Homo sapiens: one gene and its partner. The protein of the gene in region 2 purifies or fractionates together with the protein of the main gene of each other region. This does not show direct contact. Each region holds a gene or a part of one and is shown on either strand. Other genes may lie near its edges.

Evidence for each region. The genes of interacting proteins can lie anywhere in the genome.
Region 1: the proteins of TEX28 (region 2) and SARAF purify together in Homo sapiens (co-immunoprecipitation; 3 studies listed by BioGRID and IntAct, with this or other methods). This does not show direct contact.

Annotation. Positions count from the first base shown.
Region 1 is NC_000008.11:30,073,065-30,080,100, forward strand, and holds part of SARAF (store-operated calcium entry-associated regulatory factor isoform 1 precursor), read right to left. Parts: intron 992-7,036; coding exon 813-991; intron 1-812. UniProt on the Homo sapiens protein: Negative regulator of store-operated Ca(2+) entry (SOCE) involved in protecting cells from Ca(2+) overfilling.
Region 2 is NC_000023.11:154,271,112-154,278,147, reverse strand, and holds the end of TEX28 (testis-specific protein TEX28), read left to right. Parts: intron 1-5,621; coding exon 5,622-5,757; intron 5,758-6,376; coding exon 6,377-6,733; 3' UTR 6,734-6,883; downstream 6,884-7,036.

The DNA of each region.
Region 1 (7,036 bases), on a different chromosome or scaffold from region 2:
TAGCAGTACTGGGGGAAAATATTGTGAAGTAAGTATCACCCAGTACACATCAACTTCCTCTCTGAATTGCAAAGACCACGCATAAAGGTTGTATCAAACAAGAATATCATTCTGATGGAGAGGGGAAATCGTCAACATAAGTTTCTTGCCTTGTGACCAGTCGTCTTAAATCAATTTTGAAAGCAGTCAGAATACAAAGTAGAAATATGTAACTAGTGATTTAAACTGAATTCATTTAATAAAATCTATCTCTAAAGCATATTCAGTTTTGGAACTTCAAGGAGATGCTCTGCTCGTATACAAAACACCAGCGTCCCAAAGGCAATCAATGAAACCTGCCGAAATGCTTCCTTTCAAAAGTAACCACCCTCAGTTCTAAGACAATTTTAAAATCAAGTGCTAGAAGCACAATAGAGATATATGAACCCCTACTATTTACGATCTATAATTCCTAATTATCTTAACTTTGTCTTAAGGGTAGGTTGGTATTCTTTGAGGAACGACAGGAAAATGACAACCATAAGATATCCCCTATCCCTCACCCTCAAGTATATAAAAAGTTGTGAAAATTTACAAATATCTTAGAAGGAGGTCACGATACAAAAACTAAAATGAGTATTTTCAGGCTTTAAAATCAGTTCATTTCTTTTGGAGGCCATTTCTTCCACAGGAAGAGTGATTGATTTACTTACATATTTTAGGCTGATCTGAGATTTCCGTAGGTGCACCCTCAAAAGACTGAATAATGTCCCAATAAACAATTTACTGAATAAAAACCCCATTTAGACTGCCATTACTGTAGTGGATATTACCTGTACATCATACCCATCCCAGCCTTTGTTCTGACACTGTATGACTTTTGGGGTATAAGAATCACAACCAGCTGTGCCTCCAACACATTTCAACTGTGGGATGGGATCCAGCCTGCGGGAGGTGGTATAGCGGTCATAGTGGAGGGTAAGAGCTTTTACATCCCGCAGCAACATTCTGTCTGAAACAGCAAGAAAACAGAGGAACACAAAGTAAGTATCGTGTCAGAGAAAGAAAGGTTCATCCTAACGAAACTCTCGTCATAGGAAATGCCTTTCTTGCCTTCTGAGGATGGCTAAGAGAGGATGAATCTATTTCTCAAAACTATCCCAACAACATTCAGGCCTTCTGAACAAAATTCAGGTCACACTTTTAAGATCTCCCTGCATTTCAGGCCAGATGCTTCTACAGCACAAGTTGTACATCATTTTTGCTAAATCAAAAGAACAAAAAGTTCATTAACCTGAAACATTGTACTACTGTGTAATAATAATAGTGGTTAATTAAAATGGCAAGAATATAAGCATGTTCCTGAAGCACATTTAATGCTTTAAATGTCCATCAACAGGTGAAGAAATTAACACATTCTGACCTATTACAGTGGAATATTACATAGCAGTTAAAATGAGTGAACTAGAATTCATGTATCAAACTAGATAGATGGCAAAAACATTTTAAACAAAATACAAGTTGCAGAATGTTTTGTATGACAGCTTTACATAAACCTTTAAAAAAGGCAAAACAGTACTACATACTGTTAATGTCTATATATGTATATAATAACAACATGAAAACATGTATGGGAAGGATTTAACACCAAATTCAAATAAGTATCTAGTCTAGGGAGAGAGAAAGAAAAGAGATTTTAGCTCTATTCCTAATGTTTTATTACTGGGAGTGGGGGATTTGTAGCAAATATGGCAAAATATAAAGATTCAATAAAACTGGGTGATGACTATGTGTAGGTTCATTGTACACTTCTGTATGTTTAAATACTTTAGGTATTTCATAATTTTAAAAATCAAAACTATTTAAACTATTTCACAAACTAAAAAATTTAAAACATACTGACAAGAGACTTTGAAAGGAGGAGTCAAAACAATAAAATTATGTCTGGCATTCATGTGCAAAAATGAAATTTTTAGGTTGGGTGTGGTGGCTCACACCTGTAATCCCAGCACTTTGGGAGGCCGAGGCACGTGGATCACCTGAGCTCAGGAGTTCGAGACCAGCCTAGCCAACACGGCGAAACCCCATCTCTACTAAATATACAAAATTAGCCGGGAGTGGTGGCACATGCCTGTAATCCCAGCTACTTGGGAGGGTGAGGCAGGAGAATCGCTTGAACCTGGGAGGAGGAGGTTGCAGTGAGCCAAGATCACACCATTGCACTCCAGCCTAGGCAACAAGAATGAAACTCCATCTCAAAAAAAAAAAAAAAATGAATTTCTATGCATTATTGGAAAATAAGGACAAAGTCTTCCTATTTATCATGTTGTGGATTATTGATGGAAGATGCTGTGGATTGGCTCAGTCAACATCCACTTCACCCTCAAACAGGTATGCCTTCCTGCAAAGCAAAAGGAATCCCAAAACCTCTTGCAGCTATAGTTGCCAAAAGCAATTTCAGTTCTGCCAACCAGAGGGACTCGAGCAAAATCTGGAAAGCAGACCCTAGACTTATACAGTGCTCTGTCCTTCAGCTAGTAAACACAGGCATGGAGACCATGAGTTTTCAAACTGATAGTATCCTCTAATCAGCTTCCTGGCTGTCATGAAGCTTGACATGAACAATCTATTTTTCAATGTGGCAGATGTAATAGGCATCGCTTTCTACCATTTTGTGAGTACCCAATTCCCTATATTCAACCTGTCAGATTAGCAGAATTTGCAGCCTCCCAAAATTCTACTAAAACTATAATAAATACATTGTTTTGATGATGTGAATGACTGTGGTCAGGTAAAACGAAAGAGGAGATGACAGCAGAATTTTGGAAGGAGAAAGTAAATGGACTAGTGGTAGATGACTAGACCTAAGTGAAAGACAAATGCCAGAACAGCAAAGGGGGAAACTGAGAATCAACCTGATGTACATAACAGAATCCCTAAAAAAAAACAAAAAAAAAAAAACAAAAAACGGGAAATGGCAGCTCTGGAATGGGAGATGCCTGGAATACACACTACAGGGTGAAAGCTACTTGAGAGGAAGCCATATTCCCAGATCCTCTCCCCAACTCCACACTGTTCTAACTCCCTCTTCCCCACTAAGGAAACTGTCTGGAGATGTATTCTCTGGAGAGGATAAAACTGAAGGGATTTGCATTGGGGACCATCTGGCATAGTAAAGGGCATGGGGACAAAAACAACCAAACAGGGAACCCAAGTGACTGTGTGCACTCTGACTGCTGAAAGCACAGTTCTCCTTCCCCACATGGTGCACAAAATGCTAACAGCCATCCCCTTGTCCTCTGTGGGAGACTGGATGACTATTCCCTTGGTAATCTAACCAAGAAGAAGTACCTAAATACACTGACATCAGGAACTTCCTCCAAAAAAGAGCAACCTAGGTCACCCTGTTGTGAAGTTCAAAATCAAAAGTGCAACTGCACACTGATAGCTTCCAATGAGCTTTTTGGTTCCCCAGAATTAACCATGAGCAGGGAGCCAAGGATTACTAAAAATATGAGGAAAGTCCCTGCTATGGTTTGAATGTGTCCCCCAAAGTTCACATGTTGGAAACTTAATCCCCAATGCAACAGTGTTGAAAGATGGAATCTTTAAGAGGGCTCTGCCCTCATGAATAGATTAATGCTGTTCTTGCAGGACTGGGTTAGTTATCGCAGGAGTGGACTCCTGATAAAAGGATGAGTTAGGCCCCTTTCCCCTCTCTCACTCTCTCCCTTCTGCCTTCCACCATGGGATGACACAGCAAGAAGGCCCTCACCAGATGCTAGCACCTTAATATTGAACTTCTCAGCCTCCAGAACTGTGAGAAATGAATTCAGTTTTTTAATAAATTTCCCAGTCTGTGGTATTGTGTTACAGTAACATTAAACAGACAAAACAGCCCCTAACATGAAATACAGCAACCAGGACAAAACAACAACAAAAGGAAGCAGGAGGAAAAAAGAGATGACGCACAAGAAGAAAACTTTTTTAAAAACACTGTAATATCCTCAGAGAGATAAGAGAAAAAGACTGCGTTAATAAAACAATCATTTTTAAAAGGGATACTCAGAGAAAAAACAAGAGCTTTTGGAAATTAAAAACAGGACAGCCAAGATTAAAAACAACAGAACTGCCAGGTGCAGTGGCTCATGCCTGTAATCCCAGCACTTTGGGAGGCCAAGGCAAGCAGATCACTTGAGCCCAAGAGTTTAAGACCAGCCTAAGCAACATGGCAAAACCCTGTCTCTACAAAAAAAATTATAACATTAGCCAGGTATGGTGGCACACACCTGCAGTCCCAGCTACTTAGAAGGCTGAGGTGGGAGAATCACCTGAGCCTGGGGAGGTCGAGGCTGCAGTGAGCCATGCACTCCAGCCTGGGTGATAGAGTGAGACCCTGTCACAAAACATAAATAAATAAATACATACATACGACAGAACTGTTAAAAGAAAATCTTCTAGAAAGTAGAGCAAAAAGAGGCCGGGCGTGGTGGCTCATGCCTGTAATCCTAGCACTTTGGGAGGCCGAGGCAGGTGGATCACGAGGTCAAGAGATCAAGACCATCCTGGCGAACACGGTGAAACCCCGGCTCTACTAAAAATACAAAAATTAGCTGGGGATGGTGGCGCGTGCCTGTAGTCCCAGCTACTCGGGGGGCTGAGGCAGGAGAATTGCTTAAACCCAGGAAGCAGAGGTTGCAGTGAGCCAAGATTGTGCCACTGCACTCCAGCCTGGCGATAGAGCAAGGCTCCATCTGAAAAAAAAAGGAAAAAGAAAAAAGAAAGTAGAGCAAAAAGATAGAAAGTAGGAGAGAAAGGCTGGGCACAGTGGCTCACGTGTGTAATCCCAGCACTTTGGGTGGCCGAGGCAGGCAGATCACAAGGTCAGGAGTTCGAGACCAGTCTGGCAAATATGGTGAAACCCCGTCTCTACTAAAAATACAAAAATTAGCCAGGCATGGTGGCGGGCACCTGTAATCCCAGCTACTCAGGAAGATGAGACAGGAGAATCGCTTGAACCCGGGAAGCAGAGGTTGCAGCGAGCCGAGATGGTGCCACTGCACTCCAGCCTGGGGGACAGAGCTAGACTCCGTCTCAAAAAAAAAAAAAAGAAAGAAAGAAAAAAGACAGTAGGAGGAAAAAAAAAAAAAAGAAAGAAAGAAAATTACCAGTTCAGGACCAGTTCAGAAAGTCCAAAAATCCAACAAGGGCTTCTGAAAGAATGAACAAGGGAATCTGATTAGACAAACTCCAGGCTGTAATTCAAGAAAAGTTCCCACACTGAAGGACTTGAGTTGTCATACTGAAAGGGCCCAACAAATACCCAGGCCTGAGAAACAGACCACACAAAGGCACACGAAAAGTAAATTTTAGAACACTGAAGACAAAAAAAGATTCTACAAATTGCCAGAAGAATAGGGAGAAAACAAGCCATATAGAAAAGATAAGACTTAGAAAAGCTTCAGGTATCTCAACAGGATAGAAAAAGAAAATGGAGAAATATATTCAAAAACTCTAAAGGAAAAAGTCTGGCTGGGTTTGCCAACCATCGCTTTGCTAATGGTGGAACAAACTGATGTTACAACATCTCCTATGATGTATTTCCCACAAGTATTTAATATGAATCTAATCAATCTAATAAACTTAAGGTCAATACCCTATCTATATAAAAAATATATATAGAGAGAGAGACCTAAATATACTTCCAACCAGGAACCCAATAGGGTTTTTTGGGGAAAGAAATTATGTTAAAGGTCCTGTGGACAATTTTTTTTTGAAAAAGAACACATAGGTTACCAGATAGTAAAGGTTACTATAAAATTATTATCATCAGCCAGGCACGGTGGCTCACGTCTGTAACCCCAGCACTTTGGGAGGCCAAGGAGGGCAGATCACCTAAGGTCAGGAGTTCGAGATCAGCCTGGACAACATGGTGAAACCCCATCTCTACTAATAATACAAAAATTAGCTGGACGTGGTGGCATACGCCCGTAGTCCCAGCTACTTGGGAGGCTGAGGCAGGAGAATCACTTGAATCCAGGAGGTGGAGGTTGCAGTGAGCTGATATTGCTACCACTGCACTCCAGCCTGGGCGACAAGAGTGAAACTCCATCTCAAAAAAAAAAAAAAAAAAAAAGATTATAATCAAAATAGTAGGGAATTGGAACAGAGACAAGGAAATTGTGAAACAAAAGAAAGATCAGAAATAAATCAAGATACATTTGGGAATTCAGTAAGATGAAGTGGTCTTTTTAATTTAGTGGATAAAAGATGTCTTCTTTAATAAATAGCACTGGCATAATTGACTATGCAGCCACAAGAAAATCCACCTAAAGCTATATAAAAATTTAATTCCACATGGGCTACAGATCTAAAATTTCCAAGAACTATATTCAAATAAACCATGCTACATTAAACACAAACTACTACCTCCTCATACATAAAAAATAAGACAATGAAAATGTTCAATGGTTTAGAAAAATCAGACTGTATTAATCAACTAAATAACAGAAATAATAAATTGAATTTATTGTAACAGAGTTGCAATAATGCAAAGAACACTGAACTAAGTTGGTGTCACTAACTGGCTGTGACTTTGGCCAAGGCATTTAATTTACCTGTGTAGAAGTTTCCTCACCTACAAAATTAAAATATTATCAACCTTGAAATTTGTTGTGAAGCTTAGATATAATTTATTATCTGGCTGAGTACTTGAAGCATAACAGGTGATCAGGTATGATAAATATTACTGAAAGTTTTAAGATGGAATAGCATTACCATAATCCTATAGCATCTTTCTTCCCTAGAGATTCTTAAGGTCCAAGAACAAAATTCTAATACCCACGCCCCACTAGTTAGATCAGTCAAGGGACACAGGAGCTCCCTGAACTCCAGACTCATAAATCAAAATCACGGCAGGTCTCAAACAAGATAAACAAAACCAAACTCCCCTAAACCTGATCATCCCACATTCTTCCACATCTCAGGAAATGGTTAACTCCATGCTTCTAGTTGCTCAAGCCAAAAACCTTGGACTTCTCATCTTCTCTCCTCTCAC
Region 2 (7,036 bases):
ATGGGGCCAGATGTGGTGGCTTATGGCTGTAATCCCAGTGCTTTGGGAGGTCGAGGCAGGAGGATTGCTTCAGCCCAGGAGTCTGAGACCAGCTTGGGTAACAAAGTGAGACCATATCTCTGCAAAAAATTTTAAAAGTGTTAACCGGACTTGGTGGCACATGCCTGTAGTCCCTGCTACATGGGAGGCTGAGACAGGAGGATCGCTTGAGCCCGAGAGTTTTATGTTGCAGTGAACTATGATTGTGCCACTGTGCTCCAGCCTGGGTGATAGAGGACAGAGTGAGAACTTGTCTCAAAAAAAAAAACAGAAAGAGAGAGAGAGAGAGAGGAGAGAGAGAGAGAGGAGAGAGAGAGAGAGAGAGAGAGAGAGAGGGAGAGAGAGAGAGAGAGAGAGAGAGAGAGAGAGAGAGAGAGAAAGAAAAAGAGAAAGAAAGAAAGAAAGAAAGAAAGAAAGAAAGAAAGTTGTTAATGGCTTTTTTTTTTTTTTGAGGTGGTGTCTTGCTCTGCTGCCCAGGCTGGAGGGAGTGCAGTGGCTTGATCTCAGCTCACTGCAACCTCTGCGTCCCGGATTCAAGTGATTCTCCTGTCTCAGCCTCCTGAGTAGCTGAGATTACAGGCATGCACCACCACGCCCAGCTAATTTTTGCATATTTTAGTAGAGACGGGGTTTCACCGTGTTGGCCAGGATGGTCTCGATCTCCTGACCTCGTGATCCGCCCGCCTCGGCCTCCCAAAGTGCTGGGATTACAGGCATGACTGCAGCCGGCCAATGTCTTGGAACTATTAATAGCCATGGTGGTTGCACAACACCACATGTGCTAAATGCCGCTGAATTGTTCACCTTAAAATAATTCATTTTATGTTACATGAAATTTACCTCAATAAAAATTGAATAAAAAAGAAGCTACTCAGGTGCCGAGTAGGCAAAACTTTCACTCTTGCTTTGTATTTCTGGCTGTATCCACAAGTGGGCAGTCGTGAAATTTTCTTATAGCCTCCTGTCATATTGAAAACGCCCGGAAGTGAATATGCCAGGTCTCCATGTTTTTCTTTCCCTCCTGGACACGAGGTCCTTGGGGGCATCCAGACCCTAGCTCCTCTGTCCCAAGACTGTTCTGGTATGTTTCGCTTTCAGACGAGGCTTGGAGATAACAGGCTATGGTTCCTAGAGGCTTCAGTGTTGCTCTGTGACCTCTCAGCCCCAGGGATCCAGCCTCGGGCTGACTTTCCTCAAGGTATCTGCTTAGGGCTTTGTTGCAGGCTGGGGTCGTGTTAACTTCCATTTTTTCCCCGACTTCTCCTCCATGTCACAGCATCCTGCATCTTGGGATCTCTGAGGAGGTCTGACCTAAGGTCTGATCTGCTCTCTGAACTGGTTCCTCTCATCCCTATTGCGTTGAAGCAAAGCACAGACATTATATCAGTTCATCTGTAAATATTTCAGTGTGAACCTGAAATATGGATCATTTTGTTAACATAGCCTAAATACCATACCAAAAATGTTTTAAAACAAGTCCACAATGTTAAATATGCAGTCACTGTCACCTTATTGCCTCACACATGCCATCATTCCTTTTTATTTCTGAAGGAATTCTTTTTTTTTTTTTTGTGAGACAGAGCCTCACCCTGTCACCCAGGTTGGAGTGCAATGGTGAGATCTCGGCTCGCTGCAACCTCTGCCTCCCAGGTTCAAGCGATTCCCCTGCCTCAGCCTCCTCAGTAGCTGGGATTACAGGCATGTGCCACCACGCCCGGCTAGTTTTTGTATTTTTAGTAGAGACGGGGTTTCACCATGTTGGCCAGGCTGGTCTTGAACTCCTGACCTCGTGATCTGCCTGCCTCGGCCTCCCAAAGTGCTGGGATTACAGGCGTGAGCCACCACACCCGGCCCTGAAGGATATTTTTTGCTGGACATAGAATTCTAAGTTGGCACTTAATTTTTGGAAATAATAAGCATTTTGAACAAATCATTCCCTTCTGACTTCCATGGTTTCTGTTGAAAAGGCAGCTGCCAGTCTTCTTGTTGCTCCTCGGATCACAGTTTTGTTTTCCTCAGGCTCCTTTTAAGATCTTTTGTTTTTCTTTGTTGTTTAGTGGTTTTGCTATGATGATGTTTGGCGTGATTTTCTTTCTCTCTTCTTTTTTGTGCCGCTGACTCTCCCCTTGGTGTGATTTTCTTTGCATTCATCCTGCTTGGGCTTCGCATTGCTACTTGGGTTTATGGCTTGATGTCTTTTGTCAGTTTTGGACGTTTTCAGCCATTATATTTTCAAATAGTGACTCTGCCCTAGTCTCTCATTTTTCCCCTTCTAAGGCCCCAGTTACATGTATGTTCAACCTTTCCACTGTATCCCTACATCCTCTGGGTTCCTGTGTGAGCCGTCCTGGCGAATTTCCTCCTGCTTTCGCTTCTGTTTTGTTGGCTCTTCCCCCAGCTCCCCAGGGCCCCTTGCTTTGGCACATTTGCTCAGAGTGAGCTCATCCATCCTGGCCACATGCACCGATTGCACCTGGGCTATTGACCCCTCCTACAGCTGTTTCTCCGTCTCAGACTTTTCCTCCAAGTTGTGGGCCATGATTAGGCTCTAGCTCAATTTGCCAAAAGCAAATTCTCAGAAATGACCAAGAATATACTCTTTCTGGCTGGGCCCAATGGCTCACACCTGTAATCCCAGCACTTTGGGAGGCCGAGGCAGGCGGGTCACCTGAGGTCAGGAGTTGGAGACCAGCCTGGCCAACATGGTGAAACCCTGTCTCTACTAAAAATACAAAAAATTAGCCCGGCATGATGGCGCATACCTGTAGTCCCAGCTACTCAGGAGGCCGAGGCAGGAAAATCACTTGAACCCGGGAGGCGGAGGTTGCAGCAAGCCAAGATCGTGCCACTGCACTCCAGCCTGGGCAAATAGAAGGAGATCCGTCTCAAAAAAAAAAAACAACAACACTATTTTGAAAAAAACAATAAAGTTTAGAACACTTTGTGTTGGAGAGGGTGGTCTTAACACCTTCGGTCTGTCTTGAGGGTGTCTGGGTTGACTGGTCATCGTTTTGTGTTCATAAGAGCATTCTCCAGAGTTGTCCATTTGCTTCTGTGACTGTAGGAGGTGGAGAGAGGGGGGTCCTTGACCAAGGAAGAGAAGGGAGCGCGGCTGCCAGAGGGCCAGGAGATGGGGGCCAGAGAGAAGGGGAGACTGAGAGAATATCCTTATGAAAATATTGTTTACTGACATCTGAAGAGACTCTTCAAGAATGCACTGAAGAATATCTTCATGTATCTTTACCAATACATTGATGAAGATTGACTTCATATTCCTGAGGACAGTTAAAATCTTGAATGTTCTCACAGCTAGATCATTCATGTAAATGGAAAGACAGTAATGAGGAATCTATTTTCGGGGTGACCATCCTGCCGACCCACTCCCCCTCTCTGTGAGCAGTGGCCTAGTCCATGTTGTCCACCGACTCTCTTCTTAACAGGGACCTGGGGCAGAGACAAATGGAATATTCCTTGAAATGCTGCGAGGAACCAGCTTTTGACAAATTGGCTTTCAACAAATGAGCTGTCAGCTTATTCAGTGCCCGGGGGATTTCTCCGTGTGGGTGTTGGTCAAGTCCTTGGAGTGGGACCGAATAGAAGTCGTCACTGTTTTCCCCGTCTCTGTCAGCACCACCGTTTAGACCTCCTGCACCTGAGGCCTGCCGCCACCCTCCTGGGCCTCCTGGGGCGGCAGCCCTGCCAGTCTATGGGTTCCATCACGCTCTGGTGCCTTCTCTCTTCTACGTAAGCGGTGGTGCCAGAGCCCCCTCACTGGCCCCCTGGCCTCTGTCCTTCTGGCCCGTTCTTTGTGGTGCCAAAAGGGGAACTTCATAGAAGTTTTTAAATTATGAAGTATTTCAAGCAAAGGGAAAATGTAAGGATAACATAATTAACAGCCCCAGCTTTCTGAAATCTTAACATTTGCCATATTCACTTCAAATCTTATTTTTTTAGGAAATAAAACTTTAAAATATTCTGTTGAAGCCCTCATTACCCCTTTCCAGCACCATCTCCCTTCCTTGCTATTCTGGCCTTGCTATACTGGCCTCACCATTCTCATTTGGGTGCTTATCTTTTCCATGCATGGTTTTATACTTTTACTACTTATATAATTATATACACAACAGGTAGTGATTGTTTTCTTTTAGAGATAGGGTCTCACTCTGCTGCCCAGGCTGGAGTGCAGTGGCGTGATGGCAGCTCACTGCAGCCTCGAACTCCCGGACTCAAGAGGTCCTCCTGCCTCAGCCTCCAGAGTAGCTGAGACTACAGGCACGTGCCACCACACCCAGATAATTAAAAATTTTTTTTGTAGAGACAGGGTCTCACTGTGTTGCCCAGGCTGGTGTTGAATTCCTCCTGGCCTCAAACAATCCCCTTGCCTTGGCCTCCCAAAGCGCTGGGATTGCAACTGTGAACCACTGCGCCTGGCCTGCTTGTGGTTTTTTAACAGCTCTATTGAGATATAATTTACATATTATAAAATGCACCATTTTAACTACATTTCAATGGTTTTTAGTAAATTTACTGAGTTGCGCAACTATTGCCATGATTCACTTTTCTCTTTTTGTTTAAATAACGGCTCTATTGAGATATAATTCACATCCCATAAAATTCACCAATTTAAAGTGTACAATTCACTGGTTTTTCGTATAGTCACAGAGTTGTTCAACCATCACCACTATCTAATTCCACAATATTCTCTTTTTTTTTTTTTTGAGACGGAGTCTCGCTCTGTCGCCCAGGCTGGAGTGCAGTGGTGTGAACTCTGCTCACCGCAAGCTCCGCCTCCCGGGTTCACGCCATTCTCCTGCCTCCGCCTCCCGAGTAGCTGGGACTACAGGCGTCCGCCACCACGCCCGGCTAATTTTTTTTGTATTTTTAGTACAGACGGGGTTTCACCGTGTCAGCCAGGATGGTCTCGATCTCCTGACCTCATGATCCGCCCGCCTTGGCCTCCCAAAGTGCTGGGATTACAGGCGTGAGCCACCGTGCCCGGTCCTACAATATTTTCACCAGCCCCAAAGCAACCCTGTACTCATTAGCAGCCACTGCCCATCCCCCACCCCCAGCCCCTGGCACCCACTAATCTGCTTTCTGTCTCTATGGATTTGCCTATTCTGGACATTTCGTAACTAATGGAATTGTACTGGAATCTGTGGTCTTTTGTGGCTTTTCAATCCTTATAGTCACCATGTTTCTATAGAGTAACTGCAGGCTAAACTGCAGGCTAGACTTCGTGCTCAACACTGGTCCTGGGGGATTTGCGGAACTGAAGAGCACACACAGATAGTTCACACTGTCATTTCTACAACTTCTAGTCTGTGGCTATTTTTGTAAAGCTGTTACAAAAGAGTAACTACATATAAAATATATATGAATATTGGTGTGCGTGTGGCTGGTGTGTGTTTGGGGTGTTCCCAGGCAGACCTGGAGTGGGAGGCAGGCTTTCCCTAGAGCCTGGGGAGCGGGGAGGAAGGCAGAAGCTGAACCCGAATCTAGTCTAGGTCAGGACCGCTCGCTGTTGGCATGAGCTCTGGATGAGGTACTGAAGGAATCTCACTTTCTCTTTTGCTCCCAAGGCAAGCATTGATGGAAGAACAGGTGAATGGTCGCCTGCAGGGACAGCTGAATGAGATTTACAACCTCAAACACAATCTGGCCTGCAGCGAAGAGAGAATGGCCTATCTATCCTATGAGAGAGCCAAGGAAATATGGGTGAGAACCTCCTGGGGGAGCCTTGCAAGAAGACTGGAGGGATGAGCGAATCTATTCTGATACCCCCAAACCAAAGCAAGACACGGGTCCTCGAGCTGCCCCCTCCTGAGGGTTCGATGGCCACACACATTTGTTTCAGAGCTAGCAGCATCTGATCTTTACACTCACGCTCCGCTTCCCACCATCTGGCTTAGCTGCTTTTGCCACTCTGGTGCTGCAGTGCTCACCCGTGAGCCTCTGACTCGGGAGATCTGGGGTGGAGCTGCTTCTGCTGCGGCTGCAGGTGTAGGGAGCGCCCTCTCAGAACCCCTCCTTAGACCTGGCTTCCCTCTCCTCACTTTTCCATTCCCATAGCGCCCACCCCCGTCCCTGGGTAGCTGTGTCTTGACCAGGTCCTCAGCTTCGGGAGACAGTGGATGGGGGAGTGCAGCCGGGTCAGATGAAGCTTTCCCTGTTGCTGGAGAGCCTGCGCCCTCCCCTCTGCCCTGAATGTGCTCTAGGCTCTCTGCTTCCCTCCTCGAATACCCACTCCACAGTGCTTTCTGCTCACCCCTAAGAACTCAATAAACGACCACAACTCTGTGCTGACTTCTGGTGCGTGCATTTTCGTCTCCTGCAGGAGATCACGGAGACCTTCAAGAGCCGAATATCCAAGCTGGAGATGCTACAGCAAGTCACCCAACTGGAGGCAGCGGAGCACCTCCAAAGCCGTCCCCCGCAGATGTTGTTCAAGTTCCTGAGTCCGCGCCTCTCACTGGCAACCGTCCTCTTGGTCTTTGTCTCCACCTTGTGTGCCTGCCCCTCGTCACTGATCAGCTCACGCCTGTGCACCTGCACCATGCTGATGCTGATCGGGCTTGGGGTCCTGGCCTGGCAGAGGTGGCGCGCCATCCCTGCCACAGACTGGCAGGAATGGGTCCCCTCCAGGTGTAGACTGTACTCCAAGGACTCTGGGCCTCCAGCAGATGGACCTTAAGGGGCCAGGAGGGCCACCTGCCTTAGCTTGCTAGCTCCCTCCCTCCTCCTGGGTGCTGAGGGCATCCAGCAAGCCCCTCCACAGCTCTTGCTTGCCGATTATGTAACCACCAGCCTGGTGAAATGGATATAGACGCCCACCTGCCTCACACTTCTGTTTTGCCAGGATCCTTTCACGCCATCGGTAGACATGAGGCTCGGGAAAACTTAAAGTCTATGAAGCGCTCTCTCCTCTTTATCCCCCTTGCACCCTCTCGAGACCCAGTGCCTGCACACGCAGAGGCTCAGGTGGTCCCACACTGCA